Linked DNA regions of Homo sapiens. The protein of the gene in region 2 purifies or fractionates together with the protein of the main gene of each other region. This does not show direct contact. Each region holds a gene or a part of one and is shown on either strand. Other genes may lie near its edges.

The links.
Region 1: the proteins of MAP3K8 (region 2) and TRIM4 purify together in Homo sapiens (affinity purification with western blotting, with the first as the bait; one study listed by BioGRID). This does not show direct contact.

The regions. Positions count from the first base shown.
Region 1 is NC_000007.14:99,905,746-99,909,556, forward strand, and holds part of TRIM4 (E3 ubiquitin-protein ligase TRIM4), read right to left. Parts: intron 3,068-3,811; coding exon 2,837-3,067; intron 1-2,836. UniProt on the Homo sapiens protein: E3 ubiquitin-protein ligase. Mediates 'Lys-63'-linked polyubiquitination of the innate immune receptor RIGI, this linkage doesn't lead to proteasomal degradation but seems to enhance IFN induction.
Region 2 is NC_000010.11:30,432,693-30,437,151, reverse strand, and holds the start of MAP3K8 (mitogen-activated protein kinase kinase kinase 8), read right to left. Parts: upstream 2,969-4,459; 5' UTR 2,774-2,968; intron 2,516-2,773; exon of another isoform or gene 2,404-2,515; intron 580-2,403; exon of another isoform or gene 18-579; intron 1-17.

The DNA.
Region 1 (3,811 bases), on a different chromosome or scaffold from region 2:
GCAATGAAAACAAATACCTACTGCATGGATTCATCTCACAAACGTAATGTGAGCAAAAGAAGCCAGTACGAAAGAGTGCGTCCTGAAAGATACTCACTCAAAAATAAGCACAACGAGTGCTGGGTGTGGTGGCTCACGCCTGTAATCCCAGCACTTTGCGAAGCCAAGGCAGGCGGATCACTCGAGGTCAGGAGTTCAAGACCAGCCTGGCCAACATGGCAAAACCCCGTCTCTACCAAAAATAGAAAAATTAGCCAGGTGTGGTGGCACACGCCTGTAATCCCAGCTACTTGGGAGGCTGAGCCCAGAGAATAGCTTGTACCCGGGAGGCAGAGGTTGCAGTGAGCCAAGATCGCTCCACTGCACTCCAGCCTCGGCCACACAGCAAGACTCCATCTCAAAAAAAAAAAGTAAAAAAAAATTAGAGTGTGAGAAGTCCAGAGGGAGGCTACCCTTTGAGGAGAAGGGAAGAGGTACTGATTGGGGACATGAGGAAGCTTCTAGGATGCTATGTGTGTTCTATTTTTTTGACTTGGATAGTAGTTACATGAATGGTCACTTTGTGATAATCTGTCAAGCTTATGATTTATACATTTTTCTCCACGAGTGTCATACTTTTTTTTTTTAAATAGAGACAAGATCTTGCTAAGATGCCCAGGCTAGTGCAAACTCCTGAGCTCAAGAGATCCTCCCATCTCAGTTTCCCAAAGTGCTGGAATTACAGACGTGAGCCACTGTACCTGGCCTTAAAATGTGTTTTAATGTTTATTTTATTATGACAATAAATATAACAATTTGTCAAAATCTGTGGAATACAGAGCAATAAAGGTAAAAGTATAACTTAAATTTACCAGCAAACAAAGGGGTAAATATAAAGGAGCCAAGCATTCCAACTCAAGAAGTTGAGAAAAGAGCTAGAGAAGAAACCCAAGGACCAATTTAAAAAAAAACAGCTGGGGGCGGTGGCTCACACCTGTAATCCCCGAACACTTTGGGAGATCAAGGCAGGAAAATTACTTGAGCCCAGCAGCTTGAGGGTGCAGTGAGCTATGAGCACACCACCGCACTCCAGTCTGGGTAACAAAGCAAGACCCTGTCTCAAAACCTAAATAAAATAAAAATAAAGATAAACAATAAAGAGCAGATATTAATGGTTTCACTGCAGCATTATTTGTAGTGGTAATGGTGTTGGAGGCAACGCAGGTAGCCATTACCGGAAAAAGAAACAGGTAAAATGTGGAAGATGTACATTAGAAGTGGGTCATGGGGTAAAAGTAAAGGAAATCAATTTTAAAAATGGGTAGGTAGATAGATAAGTACAGTAGTTCTCTCAGGCTCTGAGATTCTATGTTCTAGTTTCATCTGTTTGTTTTGTTTTGTTTTGTTTTTTGGTATGGAGTCTTGCTCTGTCGCCCAGGCTGGAGTGCAGTGGCACAATCTCGGCTCACTGCAATCTCTGTCTCCCGGGTTCAAGTGATTCTCCTGCCTCAGCCTCCCAAGTAGCTGAGATTACAGGTATGTGCCACCATCCCCAGCTAATTTTTAGTAGAGACGGGGTTTCACCATGTTGGCCAGTCTGGTCTCAAACTCCTGACCTCAGGTGATCCACCCACCTCAACCTCCCAAAGTGTTGGGATTACAGGCGTGAGCCACTGCACCCGGCCCCAGTTTCATCTTTTTTAATCGTTTCCCTAACTTTGCATTTCCATTTGCTGATATAATTTTTTGTAAACATTCTGCTGGCTCACATGTATCTTCGAGGTTTCAGATTCTAATTAGATGTTAAGCCTGTATTTTAAATGTGTTATTTCAGAGATTCTTTTATGACACATATTTGGATATGTACTTGCAACTGCATTGCTTAAGCATGTTGTAAAACTTTTACATAATTCTTGGAAGTCATTACATTTAATTTTAACTGTTAGGTTATATCTATCATATAAAACCTAGCTAGCAATTTCTTATTGATAATAACTACTGGGTGGGTCCAGGTTTCTGACTTCCTTAAGAGTAGAACAGAATGTTGTCTCTTGCTTATGAAAAAAAAATAGTAATGGTAGACAGAAAATGTTCTTGAGAACACCTTTTAGAGATCTTTTCATCTTCATTCACGTGATATGGAGGAAAGAGAGGTTCTGAGGCATCCGATACTCAACATGAATTATTTCAGCAAAAAGAAAAAGCAAAGTCACAAATGTAGGACCCTATCCAAAAACTAAAAGAAGCTATAAGGACACTTTACCTACAGAGGATATAAAGGTAAAGATTAACTCAAAGGAGGGGCTTTTGATAACAAACTGGCCTAAAGACCCAAACTTAAGTGCTAAGTTAGAATTATAATCTTTTAAAGGTTGCTAGTCATTGGAAATTATTTAAATGAAAGTACCACTCAAAATATGGGGATAAGAACAAAGTTTTATCAAGCTGTGATTGTAATGATTAAAAATAAGCGAGAAAGTTAAGTGTCTCTTAATTGTTGATAACAGTTATGTACTTGGGAGTTTTATGCTTGCTTTGTTTTATTGTTTAATAATTATAAATGTACACATAAGATGAATGAAAAAAATCTTATATGTGCTAAGTCTCAGATCCTAGATGAACTATGAGACTGTGTGAATCAACTTATCTCCTATGAGCTGAGCTCAGCATACCTACATTTCACATTAATTTCCTTTGAATGGTGAATCTTTGGCTTTTTAGTTATGTGACAGCACAGAACTAGCAAGAGATAAGACATGTCTATGAAACCCACTCACCAGGAAGGACATTCAGCTCTAAAGACAAGAGAGAGTTCAGTTAGTGAAGATGAGATCACCCCCACTCGTAACTGTCTCACCTGAAGCAGCTCCAGGGTGGGAGCCTGGCTCTTCTCCCCCACCTCTAAGATGAGCTTCTTCAATGAAGCGATAGTTTGATTGAGTTTTAACGTGTTCTCATTCAGCTTCTTCTTCGTCTCTTCTTCTTCTTTGTTCAATCTCTGAAGAAACAGGTCCTCTTCTTCAACCAGGAAGTTGTGCAGCTTTGAAAACTCCGTGCTGATTCTCATTCGCTGACTCTTTATCTTATCCTAAGGCCACATGAGATTTGCTCACTCCTTTTTCTGCCTGACCCCAGCTACTAAATTCCTTACACAATTCCCCAGTAATCCACAGTCAATCCTAATCAAACCCTCTTGAAAAGCTCCTGCCCACCCCCACTAAAATTTCCATTACTCCTTTATTTATACCTACTTGATAGCTCTGTCTAGTCATTATAGTATTCATTCATTCTTCCTAACATTTCAGTCTCTACTACTGACAAGTTTTAAACTAAAACAAACTTTCACATCTACTACTTAGTTTAGCCTTCAGAACTCGTTTAGTTTTACCAAATCTTTAGGAGTGTGAGGGTGTGTGTGTGTGTGTGTGTGTGTGCGTGTGTGTGTGCATCCATTCATCTGTTTCTTTCCACAATGCCATGGGCCCAAACCGACTCTAACCTAGGGAGTATATTTAGGAAAAAGTAGGAAGGAGAGGGGTGCTACCTTAAAGTAGAGACATGGGGATGAAGTATGCGGAACTCATTATCACCCAAAGCCACTAGCAGCAGGGACAGGTACTTCCTCTCCTATCCCCGTATCTACAAGGGGCCTGACAACTGAACTGACACCCAGAAAGCTCTTCTTTCAGTCACATGATATGGAGGAAACAGAGGTTCTGAGGCATCCAAGACTCTACGTGAACTGCAAAACCCCATGACCAAAAGGACCTCAGAAGCAAGAAATGTCCCAGACCAAAAGGACCTCAGGAGCAAGAAATATCCAACCACTTCT
Region 2 (4,459 bases):
AAAAAAAAGGCAGAAACCTATGAAATGCTTTCATGGCTGTTATCACCACCGTGAAATCTAGAGTGAGGGGGCAGCTTCCCCTCCTGAGATCTTGTACATCTTCGAGGGAGATTGTGATTCAGGTTCTTGGAGTCTGCTGAGTTAGGAGAGCAACTTCTTAGATTAATGGAGGAACATTTGACTTCGGTTTTACTGAGCCGTTTAGTTGCAGTTTCTGCTTGTCGAATTTACTGGAAACACAGAGGTTAAAAAAAAAACAGCCTAATTTAGGGCCTCAGGGGTTGAAAGGATCCAAGTCTCCTGGACTTATTTATCAAACAGATGATTTGACAGAAAAAAAAAAAGTTCTCAGTACTAACATGACTCAAGAAAGAAAGAGGAAAAAAGTCCACACAGTTCAAATTCACTCTGCTGATCTGGGAAGACAAATTTTAGAGGATTTTTTTTTTTTTTATAGTAGTAGTGGTATTCTTTTTATTCTTTATTCTTTTATTTTTTTAATTGGGGGGTTTTCCTGTGAGGACTGGAGATTCTAAAAGACAAATCCTAAAAGAGCTGTAAGACAAGATGTTAGTTTTTAAACCCTGCAGAAAAGTCTCAGGCATTTATATGTAAAACCCAAGAGCTTGAACACACACAACCACACCCCTAAACTGTGAGTTGCCTGGAAAGGGGAGAGGGAGGGAAGCAGGACCCGGGAGGTGGAGGAGTGTCTGACGCTGAGACTTTTCTCAGTGCCTGCAGTAATTCCTTAGCAACACAGGGCCCCTGTCACGCAAATCTACGTTCCCCAGAAACCCTGCTGACCAGTTCGCCTGCTAACTGCGCCTGCAAAAAGCCTCAGCACTTTCCAGCCTTAATTAAGCACACAATATGCTAATGGTTTCTGAGTTATTCATGATCTGTGCCCATCTAGAGAAAGTTCAGATTGTGAAGGTATTCTAGTTTGGCAATAAAGACGTTTAGTATAAGATGATTTTTCCCTTGACACAGTTTACAATAAAAGTCCTCATAAAATTCCTACTTCCTAACCAAACAGAAAATTATGCCAGCTTTTGGAATTGGAGAGATGTGCAAATACAGTCAAAATTAGTTACACTGAATTATTTCAGAAATCAGCAATAAAATCACGAGGAAATTCTCTTCCTAAACATTAACATAATACTCTTGGCTGCCTCCATATACAGAAACAAAATGTGAGTGTTTCCTGGCAAGTGTGAATGAAAATGGCCAGCATAACAGCATATGCTTCTGCCTAACAAAGAATGACTATTACTTGTGTTATTTCTCATTTAAAATATTTTTTTAGGCCGGGCACAGTGGCTCATGCCTGTAATCTCAGCACTTTGGGAGGCCAAGGAGGGTGCATCACCTGAGGTCAGGAGTTCAAGACCAGCCTGGCCAACATGGTGAAACCCTGTCTCTACAAAAATTAGCCGGGCGTGGCGGCGGGCGCCTGTAATCCCAGCTACTCGGGAGGCTGAGGCAAGAGAATCGCTTGAACCCGGGAGGTGGAGGTTGCAGTGAGCCGAGATCGCGCCATTGCGCTCCAGCCTGGGCGACAAGAGTGAAACCCCCTCTCAAAAAAAATTTAAAAATTATATATACATATATACATATGTGTGCCAAAATAGTACATTCTCCCTCAGGGCACATTTCTGACTATGTTTTTGCTCTCAAAAAGCCCCGGATTATGCGTTTCAGGCGTATGGAAGGAAGGACCGACACTCTGCTTCAAAACCTCTACATGCCTCAACGTTCCCATTTGCTTTACACGACAAAGTCCTCATGGGCCGTATGCCAGACGTCCTGCACACAAACCTCAATCCGTCGCAGAGAGCTGGGGGCGTCAGCTGGAAGTGGATTACACTCTCCTTGGCACAAACGACTCAGGCCACAGGTATGTAAAGCAACTGCAAGAGCCTTTCTGTCCCTGTTTTTTATCAAGAGCAGCCTTTAATCTTGTCTTCCCAAAAGTGAAATAGACAAGCATCGCAACGTTTCTCTCTTACAGGCAGCCGGTGGCCTTCCCCTGTTAACTATGGAGACAATCCCTAGGCGTCCTTCTCCGCCCAGAGCTAGAAAAATTTCAGAGTCCTGATCATGCACTATCGCTCGAAAACAACTTCCGTGAAAATAACTTTTTTTTTCTCCTAGTATTCTTTCTTAGACCAAAAGCCCAGCCTTCGTGTTCTGCTATGACCTCTTTAGTCATGGGATAGAGTCCGGGTTACAAACTTGAATTTAGTTCCAGCCATTCACAAGTCTCTGGGCTCCGCCAACCCACACTCCCACTCCTTTCCTCCTGGTTCTCTAAGTCAAGGGAGCCTAAAAGGCTTATAAATTATCAAAGCACCCAGCATTTGGGAGGATCGGGTCCTCCAGCCTCCGAGCTGCACTCACCGGGTCTCGGGCAGGGAGAGTGCGGCCGTCCAGGCGGCGTCGGCAGCGGGAGGCGCAGTGACAGCGGGTCCCCGCTTCCCCGCGCACTGCCCAGACCAGCACTGCCCTGGCGCTGCGGATACGGGAAGGAGGAGGAAGGGGGAGGAGTCGCGAGTCTGCACCCCGTGAGACCCTTGCGCAAGGTGCTTTCCAGCTGTGCCTGGTGCAGCCGGCGACCCGCGAGCGCAGCTGTGGGCACGCCCCCACCTCTTCCCACGCCAGAGTTTTCCCCTCTGCTGGGGGCACCCTCCATTTCTGCATGGGAATCCCCGGGGCACCCAGGCGGGACGCGACCCGAAAGACACGCCGGAGACCCCCAACCCTGGATTACCTGCGGCCTTGGCGCTCCCACGCCGGCCGAGCGCTCCAGCCGCGGCCCCCCGAAGGTTCGGTGCGATGCTGGCTGCAGGCCTGTGGGAGCCGAGCACGCCGGGCCACTGGGATCCGGCGGCGGCAGCGGCAGAAGCAGGAACCAGGGCGCCGGACCCCAGAGCGTGGCGCGCAGTCCAGAGCGGAGCGGACGAGTGAGACCCGCGTCGCCCGCACGCTCAGACCGCCCTGCTCTGCCCCTGACTCACGGCGTCTGAGCCTGCCCAGGGGCGGCGCAGCGGACGCCAGCCACCGCCTCCCCGACTTTTCCATTTCCCCTTTCTCTCCGTAAACAGAAAGAGACTGCCCGGTTGCAGGGTAAGCCAGAGCCCCCGCGCTGGGAAATTCCGCGTCTCCCCCCCACCCGCCACCCCGCCGCCCCTCATTTGCCCTCTGGGCGCCCGGGCGGAGCTGGAGGCGGGACTAGGGAGGAGCAGAGCGGCGCGCAGGGAGGAGCGCGGGACGTGAGCTGCGGCCCGAATCGAGAGCCTGGGACGGGGACGAGTTTTCCCCCGGGCCTGGTGACCCAAGGCGTCTTAGTGGCGGAGTTGCAAGAGGTGGTTGTGCCCTTCCCGGTCCCCAGGGAAGGTCGTATATCTTAGTGTACTCGCGCCCTCGGCGCTTCTCTGGAGTCCCAGGGTCCGGCGGGAGGGCACGCTCCCGGGGGGCGGCGGGGAGGGCAGTCACCAGACCTTTTTCCGCGCGCCCCACGCTCTGGGGTGGGGACAGAGGCGCCGTGTGCCCTCCCAGCAGTGCTGCGGGAAGCCGGGGAAGCTTCGGGGCTTCTTGGAACCGCGACTGTGGGTCCGATTGCTAGTAGCACGGCCCCGCCTCGCCCAGATTTCGCTTCAAATTCACACACAAAGAGGGCAGTGACCCGTGGTGCGCACGCACACATTCCAACTTAGAGATTTCCAAGAGGCTGCGGCAGGGTGGGCCCGGAACCTGGTTGTTGGGCGCTCGGCTGGGAGCCTGTGCACTCCGCCAGCAGAACCTGGTTTTCTTCTCTGCAGTCTTTATTAAAATTGGTTATTTTGCGGCACCGCCTCATTAGGAAGCGTACTTGTACTATCTCCCCGCTCCCGCCTACCGCTAACCCTCAGTCCTAGCTGCTCATCTGGGGTTTTCCTTCTAGAGTGTCAAGCTTTTACTCCAGGTGTAACCGGAAGAGAGTTCTAGAGAAAAGCGCCACTCTCCCGAAATCCACTCTGCGGGACATTCCCAATGCCCCGCCACCCCCTCCCCCTACATTTCCCACGTATCAAGCACCCACTAGGAACCAGGCATTCGGCTAGAGCGCGGAGAGCTAGGAGCCATGTAAGGTCGACATCCTCTCTCTCTCTCTCTCTCTCTCTCTCTCTCCCCCCCCACCTACGGCCCAGGAGGTGGGGTGTCCCAGGCACAACCCAGATTCAAACGCGGTCACACTCCAAGTCCACGCCCTATTCTTCCCAGTGCCCAGGTCCGTGCTCCCTCTGCAGTTTCTAGATTGCCTCCGCGCGGTTGCGCACGCCTGTAATCCCAGCGCTTTGGAGGCCGAGGCGGGAGGATCACTTGAGGTCAGGAGTTGGAGACCAGCCTGGGCAACATAGCTACCCCGTCTCTACAAAAAATCTAAAAATTAGCCAGGCATGGTGGCTCACGCGTG